7 linked regions of the Homo sapiens genome follow. The protein of the gene in region 2 interacts with the protein of the main gene of each other region in a pairwise test. Each region holds a gene or a part of one and is shown on either strand. Other genes may lie near its edges.

Evidence for each region.
Region 1: the proteins of SLC71A2 (region 2) and FUNDC2 interact in binary tests that used the Homo sapiens proteins (3 or more experiments, as listed by UniProt).
Region 3: the proteins of SLC71A2 (region 2) and CSGALNACT2 interact in binary tests that used the Homo sapiens proteins (3 or more experiments, as listed by UniProt).
Region 4: the proteins of SLC71A2 (region 2) and ATP13A1 interact in binary tests that used the Homo sapiens proteins (3 or more experiments, as listed by UniProt).
Region 5: the proteins of SLC71A2 (region 2) and SMAGP interact in binary tests that used the Homo sapiens proteins (3 or more experiments, as listed by UniProt).
Region 6: the proteins of SLC71A2 (region 2) and TECR interact in binary tests that used the Homo sapiens proteins (3 or more experiments, as listed by UniProt).
Region 7: the proteins of SLC71A2 (region 2) and UBE2J1 interact in binary tests that used the Homo sapiens proteins (3 or more experiments, as listed by UniProt).

The regions. Positions count from the first base shown.
Region 1 is NC_000023.11:155,043,844-155,047,343, reverse strand, and holds part of FUNDC2 (FUN14 domain-containing protein 2), read right to left. Parts: intron 836-3,500; coding exon 760-835; intron 1-759. UniProt on the Homo sapiens protein: Binds directly and specifically 1,2-Diacyl-sn-glycero-3-phospho-(1'-myo-inositol-3',4',5'-bisphosphate) (PIP3) leading to the recruitment of PIP3 to mitochondria and may play a role in the regulation of the platelet activation via AKT/GSK3B/cGMP signaling pathways.
Region 2 is NC_000009.12:94,440,569-94,444,068, reverse strand, and holds part of SLC71A2 (hippocampus abundant transcript-like protein 1), read right to left. Parts: intron 3,085-3,500; coding exon 2,970-3,084; intron 1-2,969.
Region 3 is NC_000010.11:43,144,945-43,148,444, reverse strand, and holds part of CSGALNACT2 (chondroitin sulfate N-acetylgalactosaminyltransferase 2), read right to left. Parts: intron 1-3,500. UniProt on the Homo sapiens protein: Transfers 1,4-N-acetylgalactosamine (GalNAc) from UDP-GalNAc to the non-reducing end of glucuronic acid (GlcUA). Required for addition of the first GalNAc to the core tetrasaccharide linker and for elongation of chondroitin chains.
Region 4 is NC_000019.10:19,646,677-19,650,176, forward strand, and holds part of ATP13A1 (endoplasmic reticulum transmembrane helix translocase), read right to left. Parts: intron 3,265-3,500; coding exon 3,065-3,264; intron 2,988-3,064; coding exon 2,891-2,987; intron 1,084-2,890; coding exon 923-1,083; intron 853-922; coding exon 738-852; intron 650-737; coding exon 453-649; intron 1-452. UniProt on the Homo sapiens protein: Endoplasmic reticulum translocase required to remove mitochondrial transmembrane proteins mistargeted to the endoplasmic reticulum.
Region 5 is NC_000012.12:51,260,416-51,263,915, forward strand, and holds part of SMAGP (small cell adhesion glycoprotein), read right to left. Parts: intron 1-3,500. UniProt on the Homo sapiens protein: May play a role in epithelial cell-cell contacts. May play a role in tumor invasiveness and metastasis formation.
Region 6 is NC_000019.10:14,536,094-14,539,593, forward strand, and holds part of TECR (very-long-chain enoyl-CoA reductase), read left to right. Parts: intron 1-3,500. UniProt on the Homo sapiens protein: Involved in both the production of very long-chain fatty acids for sphingolipid synthesis and the degradation of the sphingosine moiety in sphingolipids through the sphingosine 1-phosphate metabolic pathway.
Region 7 is NC_000006.12:89,342,723-89,346,222, forward strand, and holds part of UBE2J1 (ubiquitin-conjugating enzyme E2 J1), read right to left. Parts: intron 1,035-3,500; coding exon 961-1,034; intron 1-960. UniProt on the Homo sapiens protein: Catalyzes the covalent attachment of ubiquitin to other proteins. Functions in the selective degradation of misfolded membrane proteins from the endoplasmic reticulum (ERAD) and is essential for cells to recover from ER stress.

The sequences.
Region 1 (3,500 bases), on a different chromosome or scaffold from region 2:
AATTCAGAGACTCTGGCATGATTCAGCAAGTTATGGCTCCCACAGCACAGCAGAATCACCTCAGGAGTTTTAAGTTTTCCAATGAAATCAGACTGTGGGTCAGGAGTGGCACACGTTGGCTCTTTTAAAAACTCCTAGGTGATTCCAATGTGGAGCCAAATTTGAATACCAATGCCACAGAGCTAAGAAATGTATGCCTAATACAATCAAATGTCAGTTTTCTTTTGTTTTTGGAGAAACTGCTCCCTTTTTCAAGTCTTGCTTGTTAGTCTCTCCTAAGCAGTCTCAGAGAACTGGCAACCACTGGTTCTGAAACTATGGGTCAAGGAGACAGCAGACGACATCTGACTGTACTGTCACTTAGCTCCCATTTCTCATCACATGCTCAACATCCCCTCTGTGAAAGCTAGCTATAATATTAGCATATGACACTAAATCATCACAGCACACTTGTATTTTTGAAATCACATCCGCTTAATAATTCAGCTGGTCTTAAAAACTCTTTTAAGGGAGCTATGATAAGGAATTTGCACTTCTGTCGCCACATGAGGAAATAAAATGGGACTGGCAAATAACATTTACTAGTATAATGAATAAAATTTGACTCAAACGGTCACTAGCATTTAAAATAGTACATGAAAACAAGTGCTAAGGCTAGTCTAGTGTGACATAGCCAGGACTGTATTACAACTCCCCACACCACATTCCTTAATGGGCAGGTGGAATTTCCAAACATCTGAGAACATTTCACATACAGACCTGAAGGAGAAAAAATCCACCTCCCACAGCTGTTGCAGCCAACTTTCCAACCTTCTGGAATATGAAACCTGTGCACCTACAAAAACAAACCAACATCAGACAAATTGATGAGCTGTCAGTTACATACAAACATGCATTTCTGGCAATGTTCATATCTTACTTAGCTTAAGATGACCTAGCTCCTTCCTACCCCCTACATAAAGCCAGCCCCAAGAGGAGCATGACATAAGGAAATCAAATCTTGGCTCTATGAATCTTGTGGTCTTGAGTAAGTCCCTTAAAACTCTCAGGTTATATTTTTAAAAGATGACTCTGGCTACATTGTGGAGAAGAGATTAAAGGGGGAGGACGAAGGCAGAGACTCTAGTTAAGACGGTGAGGTAGCGATCCAGAAGAGAAGTGAATGCCAATGGGCCGAGGTAGAGATGGCAAGGAGGGAGCAGACCTGAGGAACTGTTTGTGAAGAAAAAAAAAAACACTCCTGAGTTTGAGGACAGGATGGTTGCAAGGGATAAGGCACAAGATTCTGTCCTGAATGTGGCATTTTTTACAATATAAAAACAAGGAAGAGGAATAGAGGAAAAGGTGGGGGAAGGGAGGGGAGGAGATAATGTCATTTTGAATATGTTGAATGCAAAATGTCCATATGATATCTGAGTGGCAACATCTTGTAGCCAGTTTAATATAATTATGTGTTTCTTTATTACTGTCTATCTTCCTGCCCCCACCCGATACTAAAATGTAAGCTTCATGAAGGCAGAGATTTTGTTGTTTCATTGCTGAACACCTATCAGCTGTAATCATTAACCATTGTTGAAAAAATCCTCCCTAGACTCCAATTCTCCAGCCCCCTTCCCTTTTCTGTGCTCTCCTTTACAGCAAAACTACTTTGAGGCCGTCTCTTTTGTCCTGTGTCCATATTCTCTCACACCTACACCATTCAGGCTTTTGTCCCATGACTTCAATGAAACCATTCCTATCAAGGTTACCACTGATCTTGACCTTACCAAATGCTAGTGTTCACTTCTCAGCTTTAATCTCATCTGACCTACAGCAGCTTTTGACACAGTTGATTACTCTCTCCTTTTTTTAAAAAAGGTATTTTATTGTGTATATTTGAGGTTTACAACATGATGTTATGGGATACATATAGACAAGTAAAGTGGTTACTATAATGAATCAGATTAATATATCTATCATCTCACATAGTTACTTTTTTGTGATAAGAGCAGCTAAAATCCACTTAATTCACAGAAATCCCTAAGGCAATACAATTGCATTAGCTGCAGTCCTCATGCTGTACATTGGATCTCTCGACTTGCTCCTCTTACATATTTGCTACTTTGTATCCTTTGACCCACATCTTCCCATTTCCTCCCATCCTATCCCTGGTAACCAGTTTTATTTCTTTATATTTATTATATTATACAACTGTATATATGACTTTTTCCCCACACATATGAGATCATGCAGTATTTTGTCTTTCTATGTCTGGCTTACTTCACTTAGCATAATGTCCTCCAAAATCTATGCTATGGCAAACAGCACAATCTCCTTTTTTAAGGCTAAATAGTATCCCATTGTAGACACATTTTCTCTATCCATTCATCCATTGATGGACACTTAGGATGTTTCCATATCTTGGCTACTATAAATTAATGCTGCACTGAACATGAGAGGGCAGATATCTTTATGAGGTGGTGATTTCATTTCCTTGGGGTATATACTCAGAAGAGGAATTGCTGGGTCGCATGGTAGTTCTAATTTTAATTTCTTTAGGAACCTCCATACTGTTTTCCATAATGGTTGTAACAATCTACATTCCCGCCAACAGTGTACTAGGGTTCCTTTTTCTCCACACCCTCATCAACAATTATCTCTTGTCTTTTTGATAACAGCCATTCTAACAAGTGCCAGTTGATATCTCATTGTGCTTTTAATTTGCATTTCCCTGATAATTGATGATGCTAAGCATCTTTTCATATACCTCTGGTGGCCATTTCTATGCCTTCTTTGGGGAAATGTCTGTTCACGTCTTTTCCCCATTTTTTAAATCAGGTTATTTGTTGTTCTGCTATTGTACTCTCTCCTTCTTGACATCTTTTTGCTCTGGAATACCATTCTCTCTTGGTTTTCCTCATATATCACTGGCCATTCCTTATCAGACAATTTTGCTGAGTCCTCCTCTTTCTGACTTCTGAATGTTAGGTTGTTCTGAGGCTCAGTCCTAGAACCTCTTTGCTCTGTGTATTCACTTTCTATCTGCTGGGTCTATACCATGATCTCTGATGTAGGTTACTGTTACAGCTCCTCATCTGGACTTCTTACCTCCACTTTCACCCCCTAGAATCTATTCTCAATATAGCAGCTCATACAGTCCTAAAACAGGGGTCGACAAACCGCAGCCTGGGAGCCAAATCCTGCCAGATGTCTCTTTGTAAATCAAGTTGCAACAGAGATTGTGTGATCCATAAAGCCTACAATATTTACCATATGGGCTCTTTACAGAAAAACTTTGCTGACCCCTGCTCTAAAATGTAAGATCAAGGTACACTTCTGCTCATAACCTTCCAGTAGCTTCCCTCCTCACTAAGAGAGAAAGTTAAAGCCTTACACTTAACATCTTGTCTCCCATTACCTCACTACCCTCATTGTCTACTGTTCTCCCCTTATTACATTTCAGCTCAGTAAGAGAAAGAATTACAAATACAACAATGCATGGAGAACCTCATAAGACTTTT
Region 2 (3,500 bases):
AATTCTTTTTCATCCATCATCTCCCAACTGAATTAAAAAACACAGTATATCTGAAATTAGTATTATACTAAAAGTACTATAAAAGCTAAAACTCAAGTATTTTTGGAGGGGAAAAAAGAATGTGGAAAATTCCAATGTGGGGAATAGGAATCCTTTGTTCAATATTTACTGAGAATCTACTATGTACCAGATGAAGAAGACAAAGCTCTTGCCCTCAGGTTTTCCCACTTTATTCAAGAATATCAGGGCAACCAAATAACTGCATTATAAACTGCAACGACAAGCAAACAGTTATGGGAACATTCCTACACTCTTCTCAGGTGTTAAGGGGGCACTGCTGCAGCATCTTCAGGTGTTAAAGGGTCTATGGCCTCATGAAACTCTATGCAAAATGTGTCTATCTTAAAGCCTAAAGTAGCCTACTTGCTTAGTCTGTGTTTTTATCTAAACTCCTCTTTCACTTAACATTCAATACAACTCTGATGAATAAATCTAAAGAATGACTTCCCCACAACAAACTCTTAGTAAGTGTTAACTCACTTATTAACATGACTAATCATTGCCGTAGCCCTGAAAGAATTACCACTTTCTTGGTTTACTGAAGAAGTCTGAGTAAGGAAGGTGTACACATTTTTATACTGTTCTTTAATGGGTCTCAAAATGCTCCTTAGAACTTGACTGACACGTTCTGTAATTAATTGGCAATAAATTCTCCTATATCTAGAAGATAGGTAGACTGCAATCCAGGCAGCCTTGCATGCTGAGTTGCTTCTGCTGGCTGGGAGCACACTTCAGCTAAGTGCCGTCTCAGTCTGGATGTGTGCGCTCACTGATTGCTCTCAATGCCCCTGTGAGTAGATATTAACCCTAACTGCCATTATACAATGAGGAGCTGAGCTGGAGAGGGTAATTAAGTCACAGGCGCTTCTGGTTAGAACTCTCTTAAATCTTTCCTGAAAGCACTACTGCTCAGCACAACAGCTGTGTGAAGGGTTTCCCAGCTGAAAGCGAGAAACAAAAATCAAATATTGCAGAAAAATGAGTATCTCAACAGGTATTTCCCATGCTGTAGAAGAAAGCTGTCCCTCACTACTCTGTTGGCCAAGCCTTATGGGCACAACTTGAACAACCTACCTTCTTGTTTTTGTTTTTTCTTTTCTTTTTTTTGGCAGGGCGGGGGGAGGTTGTTAATTTTTGGAGTTTTGGGGGACATTTTTTTTTTTGAGGCGGGTCTGACCGTCGCCAGCCTGGAGTGTAGTGGCGCGATCTTGGCTCACTGCAACCTCTGCCTCCTGGGTTCAAGCAATTCTCCTGCCTCAGCCTCCCAGGTAGCTGAGATTACAAGCGCACACCACCACGCTCGGCTAATTTTTGTATTTTAGTAGAGACGGGGTTTCACCATGTTGGCCAGGATGGTCTCGATTTCTTGACCTCATGATCCGCCCCCACCTCAGCCTCTCAAAGTGCTGAGATTACAGGCGTGAGCCACCGCACCCGGCCTATTTTTGTTTTTGGTGTTCCTGAGTGAGCTCCAAATCTTGTCTTCTTCGAAGCTTTCCTATCAGCTTCTATCTTTGTCCTCCTCCATCACGACTCTGAAGATGCCCCTTTTTAGGGCATGACATGAGAGGGACATTCAGGAGTGGAGGGAAGAAGCAAGGAGAGAGAGAGAGGGAAGGTAGAAGAGTCAGAGGGAAGTGGGGTTGAAAGAGTAGTTTTCAAACTACTGATGTCTAAAGTCAACAAGTTAAAAATTGTTGTGTTTTGTGGAATAGTAGTAACCCATTTATATGCCCATCATTGATTCAGGAAGTTATTCATTCAGTCAGCAATGAATGAGAACTTACTCTACTCCAGGAAGTAGATTTAAAAGACCCAGGAAAAGGAGATAAATAACCTAAGTTTCTGGCATTCAATCTCCCTCCAACCTATTCCCCACAACCTAGCCAGATCATCTTTCTTCTTCCACTTTCTTATTCTGAATATTTTCAAATACAGAGGAAGACGGGAGAAGGGTACCAAGCATACTTCCATGTCTCACAGGTTCAGGCATGGAACACACATGCCCACACATGCACATCCACATGCTATGCTATCTTTTCCCCTGAAACATCTGAAAGTAACTGGCAGAGTCCTGACACTGATGTAAAACGCTTCAGCTATCTTCTAACAAGTCTTTCTTCTACATAATCATAATGCCATTATCATGCCTGAGAAAATCAGAAACACTGTCAGGTTTTAATTATCAGAAAAAAAGGTCTCCTATAACTTTTGTTATTCAGCAACTATGGATTTGATGAATGAGTGAATGTAGTCCTTTTCTACATACCATGTTCCAAATGTATGTCCAAAACACACAACCACTAATAGAGTTAACAATGGATTAACATTGCTGAGGTTCAGCACCTCTCCAAATTAGGTGCACAAAGAGCTTGTGCAACTTGACTGCTTAACGCTCCTCCGGGGATCAGATAACAAGAAACAAATCAAACTAATTTTTTAAAAAATTCAAATGTTCAATTGTAATCCCCAATGTTGAAGGTGGGGCCTGGTGGGAGGTGATTGGATCATGGGGGTAGTTTCTCATGAATGGCTTAGCACCACCTTCCTTGGTTGTTAATAGTAAGTGAGTTCTTGTGAGATCTGGCCGTTTAAAAGTGTGTAGCACCTCCCCCTTCACTCTCTCTTCCTCCTGCTCCAGTCATGTGAAGATGCCTGCTCTGGCTCTGCCTTCCATCATCATGAGTAAAAGCTCCCTGAGGCCTCCCCAGAAGCAGAAGCCTCTATGCCTCCTTTATAGCCTGCAGAACTGTGAGACAATTAAACCTCTTTTCTTTATAAATTACCCAGTCTCAGATATTTCTTTACAGCAGTGCAAGAAAGGACTAATAAACTCACTTTCCAGTAAATTTCTAATACAATGTTAATTACTATTCTGGTTAAAAAATATATATAGTCTATTATCTTACCCATCCATAAGCTGTACTTCGCTCGTGCTCCTGAGTGACATCAGCTACATAGGCAAATATAACAGAAAACGTGACCGAGAAGACTCCAGACACAGAAATCATCGCAAAATACCACCTATAAAAAGATTATTTTAATGACCCAAGGGAAAGGGAGTGTATGTTCACTTTCATTACCTGAGCCAAAGACATCATGTAAAGATTACGCACCAAGAAATAAGTATACTTGTATATGTATGTATACTTAAATATATCAAAAAAAATTTAAGTTAAGACAGGAAGAAGTAGAAACATTCTAATTTCATCATTGTTCAAAGGGGGTCAGTACATGCCCCCTAAAAAAACAAAAGAAGAGGAAAAACAAAGAATAAGGGGATTAGGTAAAAGTTATATTTTTAAAGGTAGCCAACAGACAGAAAAAAAACTTCTCAAATATCCTAGCTGTAAGTAAGGAAAAGACATACAACAAATGATTTGAAAAGATCTACATAAAAGCAGAAGTCATAATGAAAAATATTAGTGTACTTAAGACTA
Region 3 (3,500 bases), on a different chromosome or scaffold from region 2:
CAAGAATCCCAGTGGACTTCTTGCAGAAATTGGCAAGCTGATCTTAAAATTTATACAAATTCAAGAAACCCAGAATAACCCAAATAATATTGAACAAGAAAAATGAAATTGAAGGAAAACACTTCCCAATTCCAAAAATTACTACAGAGCCCCAGGTAATTAAGACAATGTGGTATGGCATAGAAATAGACATATAGTCAATGGAATGGAACTTAAAGCCCAAAAATAAATCATCACATTTATGGTTAGTTGATTTTCAACAAGAATAGCAAGGCAGTTCAATGGGAGAAAGAATAGTTTTTTCAATAAATAGTACTGGGACAACTGGATATTTACAGGCAAAAGAATGAAACTAGACTCCTACTTCACACCACATTCAAAAATTATCTCAAAATGGGTCAAATATCTGAATATAAGAGTCAAAACTAGAAAACTCTTAGAACAAAACCTATGTGTAAATATTTGTGACCTTGGATCAGGCAACAGCTTCTTAGATATGACACCAAAGACAAAACAAATATTAACTGGACCTCATCAAAATAAAAAAACTTGTGTTGCAAAGGACATCAACAAGAAAGTGAAGAAATAACCCATACAATTAGAGAACATTTGTAAATCATTTGTCTGTCTTACTTTAAAAAGCAAAAAAAAAAAAAAAAAAAGATAACTCGACAAGCAAAAGATCTGAACAGACATTTCTCTAAAGAAGATATATAAATGGCCTATATAAATACATGAAAAGATGCTCAACACCATTAGCCAAAAAGGAAATGCAAATCAAAAGCACAATTAGATACCACTCCACATCCACTAGCATGTAATTCAAGGTGAATCATAGACCTAAATGGAAAAAAACCAAAAGCAAGCATAGGATAAAATCTTTGTCACTCTGAGTTAGGCAAAGATTTCTTAGATATGATATTCAATAGCATAAATGATAAATTGAATTTCATCAAAATTAGCAATCTGTGCTCTTTCAAAGACATTGTTAAGAGAATGAGAAGACAAGTGATGGACCTGGAGAAAATATGGGCAAAGCATGCGTCTTATAAAGGACTTGTACCAAGAATATATTTTAAAATGATCAAAATGAAATAATAACAAACACAACTCAATTAAAATGTGGGAAAAGGCCTGAACCCTTCAAATAAACACTTGAAAAAGATGCTCGGCCGGGCGCGGTGGCTCACGCCTGTAATCCCAGCACTTTGGGAGGCCGAGGCGGGCGGATCACGAGGTCAGGAGATCGAGACCATCCCGGCTAAAACGGTGAAACCCCGTCTCTACTAAAAATACAAAAAATTAGCCGGGCGTAGTGGCGGGCGCCTGTAGTCCCAGCTACTTGGGAGGCTGAGGCAGGAGAATGGCGTGAACCCGGGAGGCGGAGCTTGCAGTGAGCCGAGATCCCGCCACTGCACTCCAGCCTGGGCGACAGAGCGAGACTCCCGTCTCCACAAAAAAAAAAAAAAAAAAAAAAAAAAGATGCTCAACATTGTTAGTCATTAGGGAAATGCAAATCAAACCATAATAAGACACCACTACACAGAAGGGCTAAAAATAGAATGGCTAACATTAAAAAGAATGACCATACCAAGTGTTGTTAACGTGGAAGGACTAGAACTTTCATACACTGCTGATGGGAATATAAAATAGTTTTGTTAATAAGTTATGAACTTAACAAGTTAGATTATTTTCTTATTAAAAAAAAAAAAAAGACAGCATCTTGCTCTGTTACCAGAGCTGTAGCGCAGTGCCTCTATCATATTATAGCTCAATGTAGCCTAACTCCTGGGCTCAAGTGATCCTCCTGCCTCAGCTTCCCGAGTATCTGGGGCTACAAGTGGGAGCCACTACACCTGGTGGGATGGCTAATATTGAGTGTCAACTTGACTGAACTGAAGGATACAAAGTATTGTTCATGGGTGTGTCTGTGAGGGTGTTGCCAAAGGAAATTAACATTTGAGTCAGTGGACTGGGAGGGGTAGACCCACACTCAATCTGGTTGGGCACCATCTACTCAGCTGCCAGCGGGGGTAGAATAAAGCAGGCAGGAGAAGATGGAAGGGCTGACTTGCTGAGTCTTATGGACTTCATCTTTCTCCCATGCTGGATGCTTCCTGACCTAGAACATCAGACTCCAAGTTCTTTAGCTTTTGGACTCTTGGACTTACACCAGTGGTTTTCCAGGGGCTCTTGGGCCTTTGGCTGCACAGACTGAAGGCTGCACTGTTAGCTTCCCTACTTTTGGGACTCGTACTGATCCACCACTGGCTTCCTTGCTCCTCAACTTGCTGATGACCTATCATGGGACTTCACCTTGTGATGGTGTGAGTCAATTCTCCTTAATAAACTCCCTTTCATATATACATATATCCTCTTAGTTCTGTCCCTCTAGAGAACCCAGACTAATACACTTGGCTAATTAAAAAAAAATCTTTTTTTAGAGAGAGAGTCTTGCTATGTAGTCCAGGCCAAGTTTCTTAATAAGTGAGTAAGCCTACTCATATGATCCAGCCATTCCATTCCTAGATATTTACCTAAAAGAAATGAAAGCACATATTCATACTATTAAAATAAGATGGAGACCAGGTCTGTAAATCCCCTGGACAAAGCCAGTTAAGCCATTAAAACAACCTTGACCTTGCAAATATAAGCAATAGAAGCAAAACTTAATTTGGGCTGTTTGCAAATGTAAACTTTGGTTATTTTTTGTCTGTGCCTATATTAAAGAAAAATCAGGCTGGGCATGGTGGCTCATGCCTGTAAGCACCTTGGGAGGTTGAAGCAGGAGGATCACTTGAGGCCAGAATTTGAGATCAGCCTGGGCAATATAGCTAGCGAGACCTTGCCTCTATAAGAAATTAAAAAATTAGCCAGGCGTGGCGATGCATGTCTGTAGTTCATGTTGCCCTGGTTACTTGAGAGGCTGAGGTGGGAGGATCACTTGAGCCCAGGAGTTCAAAGCTGCAGTGAGCTACGATCGCACCAAAGCACTCTAGCCCTGTCTCTTAAAAAAAAAAAAAAAAAAAAAAAAGAAACAAACAAACTTAGGCTACGCCAATTAGAAGCCATCAACTAACTTACATAACTAGGGACTTTCCAATAGGATGGACTAAACAAGGCAACTATATAAATATAATTAATCAAATATTTTCTTTGCCTTGTTTCCTTGTTCATCCTATAGAAGTCTTCCACTTGCATTCCTTTGGTGGAGTCCCAAATCACTTTTGATTTGTTGCTGTCTGATTCATGAATTGCTGTTTGCTCAGACAAAACTCTTTAAAATTTTATTCTGCCTCAGTTTATACTTTAACAATACCAAAACTTGTACACAAATGTTCATAGCAGCTTCTAGGTGTAGAGCCCAAAACCAGAAACAACCCAGGGTCCACCAACAGGTGAATGGACAAACTGTAGTAAAACAGATACACAATGGAACACTGCTTAGCAATAAAAAGGAATAAACTCTGACACATGCTTCACCATGGATAAATATCAAC
Region 4 (3,500 bases), on a different chromosome or scaffold from region 2:
CACCGGGGACTCCCTGCGTCAGCCCATGCCTGTTTGGGGCCTTTGTGTCCAGTTCCTGGCCGCTGGCCCCCCTGGTTCTTTACGCCTTGGCCTGAGTGTCGGTGTCGCACAGGCCTCCCCAGCTGTCCACCAGCCTGTCCTGTGTAGCCTATGACCCACTTAGTTGTTTTTTTACCCTCTTGATGATTGTTCCTTGCTTGTGGGGCTCTGTGGGGCCCACCCCTGGGACCCCTACCTGTGGACAGGTGTGGACGCCAAGCTGTACCACCTGGAGGGGTCTGGGAGCCTCAGTCCACACCTGCCCTGCCAGCATTTCCTGAGCCATCCCAGCTACAGCCCCCATCTCTGGGGCCCTGGGTCCTGTAACTTGGGGATGACAATTCCCGTGCCTATATCAGCCTGGCCCTGGCAGGCCCATGCATCCCTGGCCTTCCAGCACCTCTGGGGCCCACCTTGGAACGGGAGATGAAGAGGAAGCAGCCGGCCAGCAGCAGCCCCTGTAGGGTGGCCTGGAAGTCACTGAACTTGACTCCCTCCAGGTAGAGGACGCTCTGGCTGTAGGCCAGGATGAGGGCATTGAGCGCCAGGATCTTGAACATCTGTAGCGTGGTCACCAGCGTGCAGCGGCCCTGCTTGATCACGTGGCAGACTGCAGGGTGGTGGGGAGGCAGGTGTGGGTGTGGGTAGGGGTGCCAAGGGGGGAATGAAGGGAGGGGGAGCGGGGGCAGGCAACTCACTGCACTGGATGGATGAGAGCTTGGAGGTGAAGGGTGCTGCGATGCTGGCATCCCCCAGTTTCACAATGGGCGTACTCTCGTCCTCGAGGTCTCGCAGCACCTGGCTCAGGCGGTCCTGCAGGGTAGACAGCAGGCTGTCAGCCCTGGCCAGGATGGGGTGCAGCACCTCCCCTCTTGGGACTCACCCTCTGGGAGGTTGGCTGCTCCTCGGAGGGAGGGAGCCCCGACCGCTGCTTGGCTGTCCTGGAGGTGGCTCTGATGCCACTGTTGCTCAGGGTTGGGCTGTCCCGGGGCCGCCGTCGCCGCTCGACAACCCGCTCAGGGGCATTGGCCAAGAGCGCCACACCTGGGGGGCAGGAGGGTGTCAGACCCGGAGGAGCAGGCTCCACGGAGGGGAAGATTGCTGGCTTCAGAGCCACTGGTCCTGAAGTCCCCCAGCTGGCTCCCGTGAGGACAGTTCCCAGACTTCCCCATTTCACCTGACACCCTAAGGAGACCTCAGAGAGTGCCCGTGTTGCTTTCTACAAACTACTTTAAGAAAACAAACCACCAACAATAAACCCCCACAACAAATGCAATGAAAAAACACACAACACGAGATAGGTCAAAACTAAACTGATTTTGGCCGAGCGCAGTGGCTCACACCTGTTATCTCAGCACTTTGGAAGGCTGAGGTGGGCGGATCACCTGAGGTCAGGAGTTTGAGACCAGCCTGGCTGATACGGCGAAACCCCGTCTCTACTAAAAATACAAAAATTAGCCAGGGGTGGTGGCATGTGCCTGTAATTCCAGCTACTCGGGAGGCTGAGGCAGGAGAATCGCTTGAACCCGGGAGGCGGAGGTTGCAGTGAGATGAGATCACACCACCGCACTCCAGCCTGGGCGACAGAGCGAGACAGTCTCAAAATAAAACAAAACAAAACAACCTAAACTGATTTCAAAAGAAATAGCCAAGGAGCATGATTCTAGGAGGCAAACAACACTCAATAAATGCTTTAGTAGATAAAAGCAGATAAATATTGGAAAAGCAAAAAAACCAACGTAAGATTGATCTTTAAAATTCAATTTAACACCTGAGTTCTTGCAAAAAAAAAAAAAGAAAAAAGAAAAAAAGGCCAGGTGAGGTGGCTCACACCTGTAATCCCAGCACTTTGGGAGGCCAACACAGGCGCATCATCTGAAGTCAGGAGTTGGAGACCAGCCTGGCCAACATGGTGAAACCCCATCTCTACTAAAAATACAAAAATTAGATGGGCATGGTGGCTGGCGCCTGTAATCCTAGCTACTTGGGAGGCTGAAGAAGGAGAATTGCTTGAACCCGGGAAGTAGAGGTTGCAGTGAGCTGAGACCGTGCTATTGCACTCCAGCCTGGGCAACAAGAGAGAAACTGTCTCAAAAAAAAAAAAAAAAAAAAAAGGCAGGGTTCGGTGGGATGCAGTGGTTCACACCTGTAATCCTAGCACTTTGGGAGGCCAAGGCGGGTGGATCACTTGAGGTCAGGAATTGGAGACCATCCTGGCCAACATGGTGAAACCCCATCTCTACTAAAAATACAAAAATTAGCCAGGCATGGTGGCACGTGCCTGTAATCCCAGCTATTTGGGAGGCTGAGGCAGGAGAATCGCTTGAACCCGGGAGATGGAGGTTGCAGTGAGCCCAGATCGTGCCATTGTACTCCAGCCTGGGTGACAGAGCAAGGCTCCGTCAAAAAAAAAAAAGACAGGGTCTTGCACTGTCACTTAGGTTAGAGTGGATCACACCACTGCCTTGAACTCCCAGACTCAAGTGATCCTCCCGCCTCAGCCTCCCAAAGCACTGGGATTCCAGGCAGGAGCCACAGTGCTCAGCCATCTGTGTGCTTTTGACAGAGATCTGGGGCTATGAACCATCTTCATGGCTTCAGCTCTGGGTTTTCTGAGTCACTCTCCCAACTTGTTGCCTCTCTCCTGGCCTCTGGCCTCCGCCCTGCTCTGTTCCTGGGATATTCGCATCCCTTCCTGCCCTCAAAGCCCCTGACCTTGCCACCCCCTCCCATCCTCACAGGAATTAGTGCCCCCGTGGCTGTCACCAAGGGCCAGGTCTGTCTTTCTAGCTCAGTGACATGTCCTCAACACCTCGTCCACAAACGAAATACCCTAGCCCACAGCACTCACCCACGTCAGCATGCTTCAGGGCGCCCACGTCGTTGGTGCCATCCCCACACATGAGGGTCACGTAGCCCAGCTCCTTCAGGCTGGTGATGACAAACTCCTGTATGGGCGGAGACAGGCTGAGCAGGGGCTGCGTGCCTACCGCTGTGCCCCTGACCCCTAGGGCTGTGCACATACCTTCTGCTTGGGAGCCACACGGGCGAACACCTGCACATGGGGGATGAGGCGGAGCAGCTGCTGGGGGTCGGTGGCCTGCAGGTGGGCCAAGCCGTCGCCTGTGAGGCACAGTGCGTACTCCAGGGCCAGTGCCTTTGGGGAGCCCCGGGCCAGGGGCAGCACGATGCTGCCGTCAATGGAGCGCCACTCGCACTGCCGGCCTGCGGGCAGCACCTAGGGTTAGGGCTGGGGGCTTGGCTGACCGGGCTCAGAAGCACCCTCCCTCCACTCGGACCCCAGCACCAGCCAGTCTCTCCTCTCTGGAGCCCGCACCTCCCTACCCACCCAGGTGACCCCCAGCCCTTCTCTGGGGACTCCACAAAGAATGTCCCTCAGGTGCACAGGGTGGAACCAAGAGCCTGGGGCCTGAGCTACTTGCCTGAGAGCCCGGGACACA
Region 5 (3,500 bases), on a different chromosome or scaffold from region 2:
ACCCAGGCTGGAGTGCAGTGGCAGAATCTCGGCTCACTGCAAGCTCCGCCTCCCAGGTTCACGCCATTCTCCTGCCTCAGCCTCCTGAGTAGTTGGGACTACAGGTGCCCGCCACCACGCCCGGCTAATTTTTTGTATTTTTTTAGTAGAGACAGGGTTTCACCGTGTTAGCCAGGATGGTCTCAATCTCCTGACCTCGTGATCCACCCGTCTTGGCCTCCCAAAATGCTGGGATTACAGGCGTGAGCCACCGCGCCCGGCCAATTTTTTTTTTTTTTTTTTTTTTTTGAGACGGAGTCTCATTCTCTGGCCCAGGCTGGAGTGCAGCGGCGTGATCTCGGCTCACTGCAACCTCTGCCTCCTGGGTTCAAGCGATTCTCCTGCCTCAGCCTCCCGAGTAGCTGGGACTACAGGCGCCCACCACCACGCCCAGCTGATTTTTTTGTATTTTTAGTAGAGACGGGGTTTCACCATGTTAGCCAGGATGGTCTCGATCTCCTGACTTCGTGATCCACCCGCCTCAGCCTCCCAAAGTGCTGGGATTACAGTATTTTTAGTAGAGAGGGGGTTTCACCATGTTGGTCAGGCTGGTCTCGAACTCCTGATCTCGTGATACACCTACCTTGGCCTCCCAAAGTGCTAGAATTACAGGTGTGAGCCACCGTGCCCAGCCTTAATTTTTTTTTTTTTTTTTTTCTGAGACGGAGTCTCACTCTGTCACCTGGGCTGGAGTGCAGTGGCTCAATCTTGGCTCACTGCAACCTCCGCCTCCCAGGTTCAAGCGATTCTCCTGCCTCAGCCTCCCAAGTAGCTGGGATTACAGGCACCCGCCACTATGCCCAGCTAATTTTTTGTATTTTTAGTAAACACAGGGTTTCACCATGTTGGCCAGGCTGGTCTCGAACTCTTGACCTTGTGATTTGCCCACCTCGGCCTCCCAAAGTGCTGGGATTACAGGCATGAGCCACCACACCCGGCCTGGGTGTCACAATTTTGAAGTGAGCAGGCAAACCATGTCAGATAAGGAAAGCTTGCAAGAGAAAGCCCAGAGAAAAAAAAGGGAGCCTAGAGCTTGAATTCTGTCTTCTAATATGCCAAGGCATGACCTGTACAAGAGAACTAACAGCAGAAACTGGGAAAGACAGATGTCTCCCCAACAGAAGGAAGAGCAAAACTGGACAAAAGCTACGTAGCATCTTGGAGAGAGAATTCTAGGACAGAATGGTTAGTTGAACTAGCTGAGCATCAGAACCCCTCTCAGCCTTAATTTTTGAATTTTTATAAATGGAAAGTGTTCTATTAGAATTCTCATTAAAATCAAATTTTAAAATAAAAAATCCAGACATACTTAGAATGTCTATCTGGAGAGGAATGATGAAATAAATTACAGGCCATCCATTGTGGAAACAGTTGCTAAAACGAATATGAGATCTACAATATTACTGGGACAGGATACATGGTTAGATGAAAAAAGCAAACTGCCAGGTGGTATATGTAGTAGGACTGCATCTTTGTTTAAAAAAAAAAAAAAAAGTAAATTGGCAGAGTGCAGTGGCTTACACCCATAATCCCAGCACTTTTGGAGGCTGAGGTGGGAGGATTGCTTGAGGCCAGAAGTTTGAGTCCAGCCTGGGCAACATAGCGAGACCCCTGTCTCTCTGTGTATTTTTTTTTAAGTAACTTTAAAAAACCCTATAAATATGCATATATATGTTTGTACATAGAAAAGGTCTAGAAAGCTGTTCTCTGAGGGGCATGTATTACCTTTCAAATAAAAGAACATGCTTGGCAAGGTGGCTTACACCTATAATCCCAGCAATTTGGGAGGCTGAGGCCAGAGGATCACTTGAGTCCAGGAGTTCAAGACCAACCTGGGCAACATGGCAAAACCCTGTCTCTACAAAAAATACAAAAATTAACTGGGCATGGTGGCACGCACCTGTGATCCCAGCTACTTGGGAGGCTGAGGTGGGAGGATCACCTGAGTCTGGGAAGGTTGAGGCTGCAGTGAGCTGTGATTGAGCCACTGCTCTACAGCCTGGGTGAAACTGAGGCCCTGTCTCAAAAAAAGAAAAAAAGGACAAACAACAACAAAATAAACTAAGTTCAGGAAAGCTGGCATAAAAGGAGGAAATGGCTTATAGCTTTTCCCCCATTCTCTCCCGTTTCTACCCCATTTTTTTGTCCAAACAAAGGAATAATTATTAAATAGCACTACAGTCTTTCCAAACCTTCCCTGCTCAGGTTCATAAGATTGAAGGCCCCACCCAAGTCCTAACCAATAGCAAATGACCTTCAAGATCTATTCTGTTCACTTACTCTTTTTTTTGTTAACCCAGATACTGGCTGGCTTCTTTGTGGTCCTTGTTCCCAGCTTGAGCTAAATCTCTTATCACTGAGGCATCAGATCTTTTGCCACCTAAGTCTGCCAGCCTACTTATTTGCTCTAGACCTGCCCAGCAGAGGGCGGCTCCCCGAGTTCTTTCCATGGGAAGCCACCCTGGGACTCGGCCCCCTTTCTTCTGCCTTCTCTTTCATGTGCACCAGCCAGTTGGGTGGAGTGAGACCTTGGGAGCAGTACACCATGACAGAAAGAACACAGGCTTGCAGTAAATCAGACTTGGCGCAAAATCCTGCCTCTGCCATTACTAGCTGTGTGACCTTGGGAAATTTTTTTAATCTTTGAAAATTTAACGGTGACTCATGCCTGTAATCCCGGCACTTTGGGAGGTCGGGGTGAGTGAATCACTTGAGATCAGAAGTTCGAGACCAGTCTGGCCAACATGGTGAAACCCTGTCTCTACTAAAAATACAAAAATTAGCTGGGCATAGTGGTGGGCGCCTATAGTCCCAGCTACTCGGGAGGCTGAGGCAGGAAAATTGCTTGAACCCGGGAGGCAGAGGTTGCAGTTAGCCGAGATTGCACCACTACACTCCAGCCTGGGTGACAAGTGGGAAATTCCATCTCAAAAAAAAAAAAAGAAAAGAAAATTCCTTAACTCCCCTGAACTTCAGTTTTTCCTTCCGTAAAATGAGACTAAAACTTGTTTCATTGGGTTGTGGTGAGGAATAAGTGCAATGAAAAATGCTGCTTTGGGAGGCTGAGATGGGAGGATCACCTGAGGCCAGGAGTTTGAGACCAGACTGGGCAACACAGTAAGACCTTATTTCTACAAAAAATTATTTTTAAAATAAAATAAAGAAAAATGCTAAGTGTCTAATACAGGGTGAGGACAACCTAGGCGGTAGCTGGTGTGATCATTTGGTGGCAAGAGATGAGCTTTACCTGGCACGGTGGGCAAAGCCCACAAGGCACAGTTCCACTCTGCCCTACTTCGAATAGGGCTGACTTATGCACTAGGCACAACAGGCACAGTGCCCTGGGCCCACAATGCTTCGAAAGGCCCATGAAAATGTTTTAAATAATTTTCATTTCTTTTATAATTAGAAGAAGGAAAAGAAACAAAATTTTAGGTCAAAGAAATATTAAGGTTGTTATG
Region 6 (3,500 bases), on a different chromosome or scaffold from region 2:
GGCCTTTTCCAGGGCTGCAGGCCAGTTCCCCTTTGGGTTGGGCAGTATTGATTGATACTCTTCCTGGGAAGGTGGCAATGCTTACGGGCTTTGGATCAGTGCTAGGCTCATATGCTTAACTGCCACTGACAAGGTTTGGAGCCCACGGGCAAGGTCTTTAGTTTCTCGAGCTAGTTTTTTTTTTTTTTTTTCGTGAGACAGAGTCCCCCTCTGTTGCCCAGGCTGGAGTGCAGTGGTGCCATCTAGGCTCACTGCAACCTCTGCCTCCTGGGTTCAAGCGATTCTCCTGCCTCAGCCTCCTGAGTAGCTGGGATTACAGGCGCCCACCACCACGCCCGGCTAATTTTTGTATTTTTAGTAGAGATGGGGTTTCACCATATTGGCCAGGCTGGTCTTGAACTCCTGACCTTAAGTGATTCTCCCACCTTGGCCTCCCAGAGTGTTGGGATTACAGGCGTGAGCCACAGCGGCTGGCCTTGAACTAGCTTTTTAATCCATAAAATGACACCTGGGTGTGCGAGACCCGGCTGACATTGGCTGATGGTGTGCATCTTCCCAACTCTGTGTTCAGGGATATCAGGCTGACATCTCTAAGTCACAGGTAGGGTATTTACATCACGGAAAGTGGCAAATGCTACAGCTGAGGCCCCTTCCTCTCTCCTGCCCAATGTTCATATTGACTGGGATAATTGTCCCTGCCTCCCAGGGTTATCGTTTCAAGGGTTTCTTGGTCTGGTGAGCATCGTATGAGCAGATACATACCTGGAAAGCCTCAGCTTGGTGCAGCACCTTGCAGCAGCTAACATTTGACAAGTAGTACGGCCCTACTCACCTCTGGACCTCTGGACACGGGGCAGATGTGGGGAGGAGGGGCCGAGGAGGGGGCGGGGCCGAGGAGGAGGAGGTGGGGCTTGAGGACGGGGAGGGGTGTCGAGGAGGGGGAGGCGGGTCCCAAGGAGTAGGAGGCAGAGTTTAGCAGGAAAAGGCATGTCCTGAGGAGGAGGAGGGGGCAGGGCTGAGGTGGAGGAGGTGGTTCCTGAGGATGAGGAGGTAGGGCTGAGAAAGAAGAGGCGGGGCCGGGGGGGAAGGGGAGGCCGAGGGGGAGGAGGTGGGGCTCAGGAGGAGGAGGCGGGGCAAGAAGGAAGCGGCGGGCCTGGATGGGGGAGGCGGGACCAGGGAGGGGGAGGCGGGACCAGGGAGGGGGAGGCGGGACCGAGTAACAAGAAGGTGGGACGGGATGAGTGGTGGGCTTTGGTGTGTGCCAGGTGGAGTAGCTGTTTCAGCCGCACCCAGGTGGATTTAGAGGCTCCACCAGCTGGGCCCAGCAAAGCCTTCTGGACTAACTGGTTCCTGAGAACAGAGGAGGGTTGACAGCCTTGAGTGAGGGCGGTGCTTGGAAAGGCCTTGCGACTCTGATAAGGTGGTTGGGTTTGGTCGGGAATCCTGCACTTTCATTGACAAGCCTGGCTGCGTGAGAAAGGCCAGAGACCTTGAGCTAGTTGGTCAAGTTCAGGCTGGGTCTTAACACCTTCTTGCTGATACTGATAGTGGCAGCTGAGAATGTTTTAATACCTGGGACATTTCCTGCGGCAGCCAGAATATAGTAATCTTCCTAGTAAATTACGGTGAATATAGTGCTTAATTATCAGTGTTTTTTTTTTTTTTTTTTTGAGACGAAGTCTCGCTCTTGTCCCCTAGGCTGGGGTGCAATGGCGTGATCTCGGCTCGCTGCACCTCCGCCTCCCGGGTTCAGGCGATTCTCCTGCCTTAGTCTCCCGAGTAGCTGGGATTACAGGTGCCCACCACCACACTTGGCTAGTTTTTGTATTTTTAGTAGAGATGGGGTTTCACCATGTTGGCCAGGCTGGTCTGAAACTCTTGACCTCAGGTGATCCGCCCAACTTGGCCTCCCAAAGTGTTGGGATTACAGGCGTGAGCCACTGCGCCGGCAGTGTGAGTGCTTCTTATCTAGTAACATATCTAAATCGTGTACTAAACATAAGACGTAGATGCTGTTCTTATCTCTACTTGACTGATGGAGAAACTGAGGCACAGAAAGTGAAGCGACTTGTCCACAGCTAGTGGCTAGCAGAGCTGGGATTCTTCTAGAACCAGAGTGGGCTTTGCTGTGGGTCGTGCACTGGGGAAAGAATCAAGTGTGTGGTGGTGGTGAAGGACTTGGAGGCCACCCACTCTGTCCTTGGGACAGTGACTTAACCTAAGCTTCAGTTTTGTCACCCTGTGAGGCCAGGATAACGACACCTGGGGGCCTGTGGGGGAGTGTGAAGTGCTCAGCATGCTTCGCGGCCCACAGGCAGGGTAAAAATCCTTAAGCGGAGAGGGACCCACGTTAGGCAGGTAAGGACAGATCAGCATCCCCAGGGCTGCCTGAGATGCTTTTGGCACCTGACCTCTTTGGAAGGCCTCAAAACTCTTTTTTTTCTTTTTTTTTTTTTTTGAGATAGAGTCTTCCTCTGTCACCAGGCTGGAGTGCAGTGGCGTAATCTTGGCTCACTGCAACCTCTGCCTCCTGGGTTCAAGTGATTGTCCTGCCTCAGCCTCCCGAGTAGCTGGGATTACAGGCACGTGCCACCATGCCTGGCTAATTTTTGTATTTTTAGTAGAGACGGGGTTTCAGCATCTTGGCCAGGCTGGTCTTGAACTCCTGACCTCGTGATCCACCCGCCTCAGCCTCCCAAAGTGCTGGGATTATAGGCATGAGCCACCACGCCTGGCTGAGAAAAGCTTCAAAACTTAATGAAGAAGGTCCACCAGGCGCCAGGAGACAGACTGATGTCAAATCATATGCCCAGAAGGTGGAGGAAGAAGCCCAGATGCCAGTGCCTCAGTTTTGATATAATGTCACACACCATGCAAGTCACATTTTTTTTTTTTTTTGAGACAGAGTCTCGCTCCGTCACCCAGGCTGGAGTTCAGTGGCTCCATCTCGGCTCACTGCAATCTCCGCCTCCCGGGTTCATGCGATTCTCCTGCCTCAGCCTCCTGAGTAGCTGGGACTACAGGCGCCCACCACCACGCCCGGCTAATTTTTTTTTTTTTTTTTTTTTTTTTTTGTATTTTTAGTAGAGACGAAGTTTTACCGTGTTAGCCAGGATGGTCTCGATCTCCTGACTTCGTGATCCACCTGCCTCGGCCTCCCAAAGTACTGGGATTACAGGCGTGAGCCACCACACCTGGCTGCAAGTCACATTTTGAGATGATCAGCTCTTTCCTTCTTCATGGGAAGACCCTTGGGGAAGTCACACCACACTCAGAGCCCACTTTTTAACCTGTTGTGACAAAGAATCATCCCAGGAAGTGGAGGCTAGAAGACAGTCTGGCCACCAGGTGCCTGTCACAGCTGCCTCACCTAGGAGCACACTGCTTCTGTTCCTGCTCCCTCCTAGCTGACTGTTCCCCACCGAGCCACAGGCAGAAGGCCTTTTTGCCTGTAAGTGGGAGGATCTTAGTGTGCCATGGCTCAGAACCTTCCCTCAGAG
Region 7 (3,500 bases), on a different chromosome or scaffold from region 2:
AAGTAACTTACAGGTTTAAATTGGAAATTAATCCTTGAAAGAATAGCAAATTATGATAATTATATAATCAAAAAATTACTATGTTTGGGTTATTTTAACAAATCTTTAAAAATTATCCCTTATAGATGCCTAAGAGCTTATTTATAAAATGGTAATACTAATGTATTTAATGTCATCTTACAGTTACCATGTACTTTTCAGTTTACAAAATACTTGCACTTAAGTTATGATATTTTTATTCCCACTGTTACCATGAAAACCTGCCTGGGTATATTTAAATACCCTCCTTTTACAAATGAGAAGACTGAGAGAGGCCGAGATGTTTATACAAAAAGCCTTGAGTAGCTACGGAGACCCATCAAAAGGCTTCCAAACTGTAAAGTATCTGGGGTTCTTTCCACCTCCCCTCCCTCAGACTCAAGATCTAACCTCGGCCGGGTGCAGTGGCTCACGCCTGTAATCCCAGCACTTTGGGAGGCCAAGGCGGGTGGATCACGAGGTCAGGAGTTTGAGACCAGCCTGACCAACATGGTGAAACCCTGTCTCTACTAAAAATACAAAAATTAGCCGGGCGTGGTGGTGGGGGCCTGTAATCCCAGCTATTCAGGAGGCTGAGGCAGGAGAATTGCTTGAACCTGGGAGGTAGAGGTTGCAGTGAGCCGAGATCACATCACTGCACTCCAGCCTGGGCAACACAGTGAGACTCCGCCTCAAAAAAAAAAAAAAAAAAAAAAAGATCTAACCTCAACTTAGCATCTGAGACCCATTTTATAAAGACCACAAAATCCGTTTCTTCTAAAGTGATTTGGAATGGCTAATGAAATATTCATGAAATATGGTGAATAAAACGTCAAACTACATCACACACATCTGTAATGACTCAAAGCAATGAAAAGCAATTTTAAAAAATTTGTTTTAAATATTAAAATCCATATGAAGAACATGGAGATAGAAACTAACCTCTAAAGGCTGCGCATGGTAATGATCTGTTGGATCTTTCAATTCTGCCGCTTCTTTCATTAAACGTTTAACAGCTAAAATAAAATTCATAAAATAGAGATATTTAAAATATACTTTTCTGAATGATTAGCACAGTCTTACGAGCCTAATGAAAAAATGTGTAGAGAACTAGTGCAAATGAGCATATGGCAAAGGTTTAATTATAAGATTATGGGAATAAATAGAGGGGGAGAGGAAGGAAACAGTTGCTAGGCATTAACACTTTAAAAGAGTTATATATTAAATATATAGTGAAGACACTATTTTTATTTAATAAGTACTTATATATACTTCCTATATGGTGGTATTTATTGAAGTGCTTTTACAGACATTAATAACTCATTTAACCCTTAATACAACATTACTAGATAGGTATTATTTTTATCCCCATTTTCCAGATGAAGAAGCCGAGACACGGAGAGATTATATAGTCACACAGCTAGTAAATGACAGAGATGGGATTCCAACACAGGCAATTTGGCTCTACCTGTTAAAATGTCTTTATTAACAAAAAATGTATTCTCTGGATCTCATGCTCGGTGAACAGGAAACACCTCTATATCCTCCAACTCTTGGGACTTTCCATCCACTATCTTGCATTAAATGAATGGACTGTCCCCTGAATTCACTGACTCTCCAAAGCCCCGATGAAATTCCTTCTTGAAATGATCCTTCAGCTTCACTAAAACCTCCAGTCCACTGACCCCACAACTTTCTTCACCCCTCCTATACTTATATTCATTTTCCTCTTTATCCACACCCTTGGCTCTTAGGAGTCCCTCTTGTACACTCCCTTAATAAAATCCAACTGTGCCTGACCCAACCCAACCATCTTATTTGCTGTCTATACCCAAACAGCTGAGCATCACTGAAAGGAGGAAAAAAAGTCAGAGAGGATGGTGCAGTAATGCCATTACAAGTCATTACCAACAACCTCTACTGGGATACAATGCCACCTAATGTCCCCACATTTCTCTAGTAGGCCTTCCAGCCTACTCTTTCCACCTAGCACTCCAAGATTATTTCCCACCTAGTCTAATTTCTCCTCTCTTTCAGTTAATGGCACCCAGCTTTTTATCTCCCTGATGAATGACTGCTAGCAGGAGCTGCTCAGATGCCTATCACAATCTACAATCCTATCTGTATCTGCACCCTCTGTCTTCTATTGGCTCTCAAAATTCAATCCTTTGATATGCACTCTGGATCCCAACCCCTCTCATTTCAAGCTTTTGGTGCTAAAACATGTCAGGATACTGCAGTGGGATGGCTGAGTTAGGGAAAAGGCTTCTCAAAACTGGGTTTGCAACCACTGATGTAGCTCAAAAGAGAGGTATGCACCAGATGCTGGGAGGACAGGCTGGGCATCTAACTTTAGAGCAAATGGAAGAGAAAAGGAGTCAGGTACTGAATGTGAAAGAAATAACAGTAGAAACTCCCCAGGTAGATATGAATAGGAAGAGGTAATAATAAAAGTAAAATGTGTAGAGGCACAGGTTGGAATGTTATGGGGAGAGAGATTAACTGAGAAGGAACCCCTACATGTATATAACCACAATGGTTTGGTATGTATCAAGACTTTTGCATAAAATTGCATTTGAGGCCAGGCGTGGTGGCTCATGCCTGTAATCCTAGCACTTTGGGAGACCGAGGCGAGTGGATCACCTGAGGTCAAGAGTTCGAGACTAGCCTGGCCAACATGGTGAAACCCTGTCTCTACTAAAAATACAAAAATTAGCCAGGCATGGTGGCGGACGCCTGTAATCCCAGCTACTCGGGAGGCTGAGGCAGGAGAATCGCTTGCACCCAGGAGGTGGAGGTTGCAGTGAGCTGAGGTCGTGCCATTGCACTCCAGCCTGGGCTTCAGAGAGAGACTATCTCAATAAAACAAACAAACAAACAAACAAAACCAGGCACGGTGGCTTAGGCCTGTAATCCCAGCACTTTGGGAGGCCGAGGCAGGTGGATCACCTGAGGTCAGGAGTTTGAAACCAGCCTGACCAGCATAGTGAAACCCCATCTCTACTAAAAATACAAAATTAGCCTGGTGTGATGGCACATGCCTATAATCCCAGCTACTAGGGAGGCTGAGGCAGGAGAATCGCTTAAACCCAGGAAGTGGAGGCTGCAGTGAGCTGAGATCGTGCTGTTGCACTCCAGCCTGGGCAACAAGAGCGAAACTACGTCTAAAAAAAAAAAAAAAAGCCCTCCAGGCCGGAGGGCAGTGGTACGAACACAGCTCACTCACTGAAGCCTCAACCTCCCAAGCTCATGCAGTCCTCCCACCTTGGCCTCCCCAATAGCTGAGACCACAGGCATGCACCACCATGCCTGGCTAATTTTTAAATTTTTTGTAGAGCTGGGGTCCCCCTGTCTTGCCCAGGCTGGTCTCGGGCAATCCTCCTACCTCAGCCTTCCAAAGTGCTGAGATTACAGGCGGGAATCAGCATGCCTGGCCAAAAAAAAGTTGTTACTATCCTACTTCACAATTATTAATATTCTTT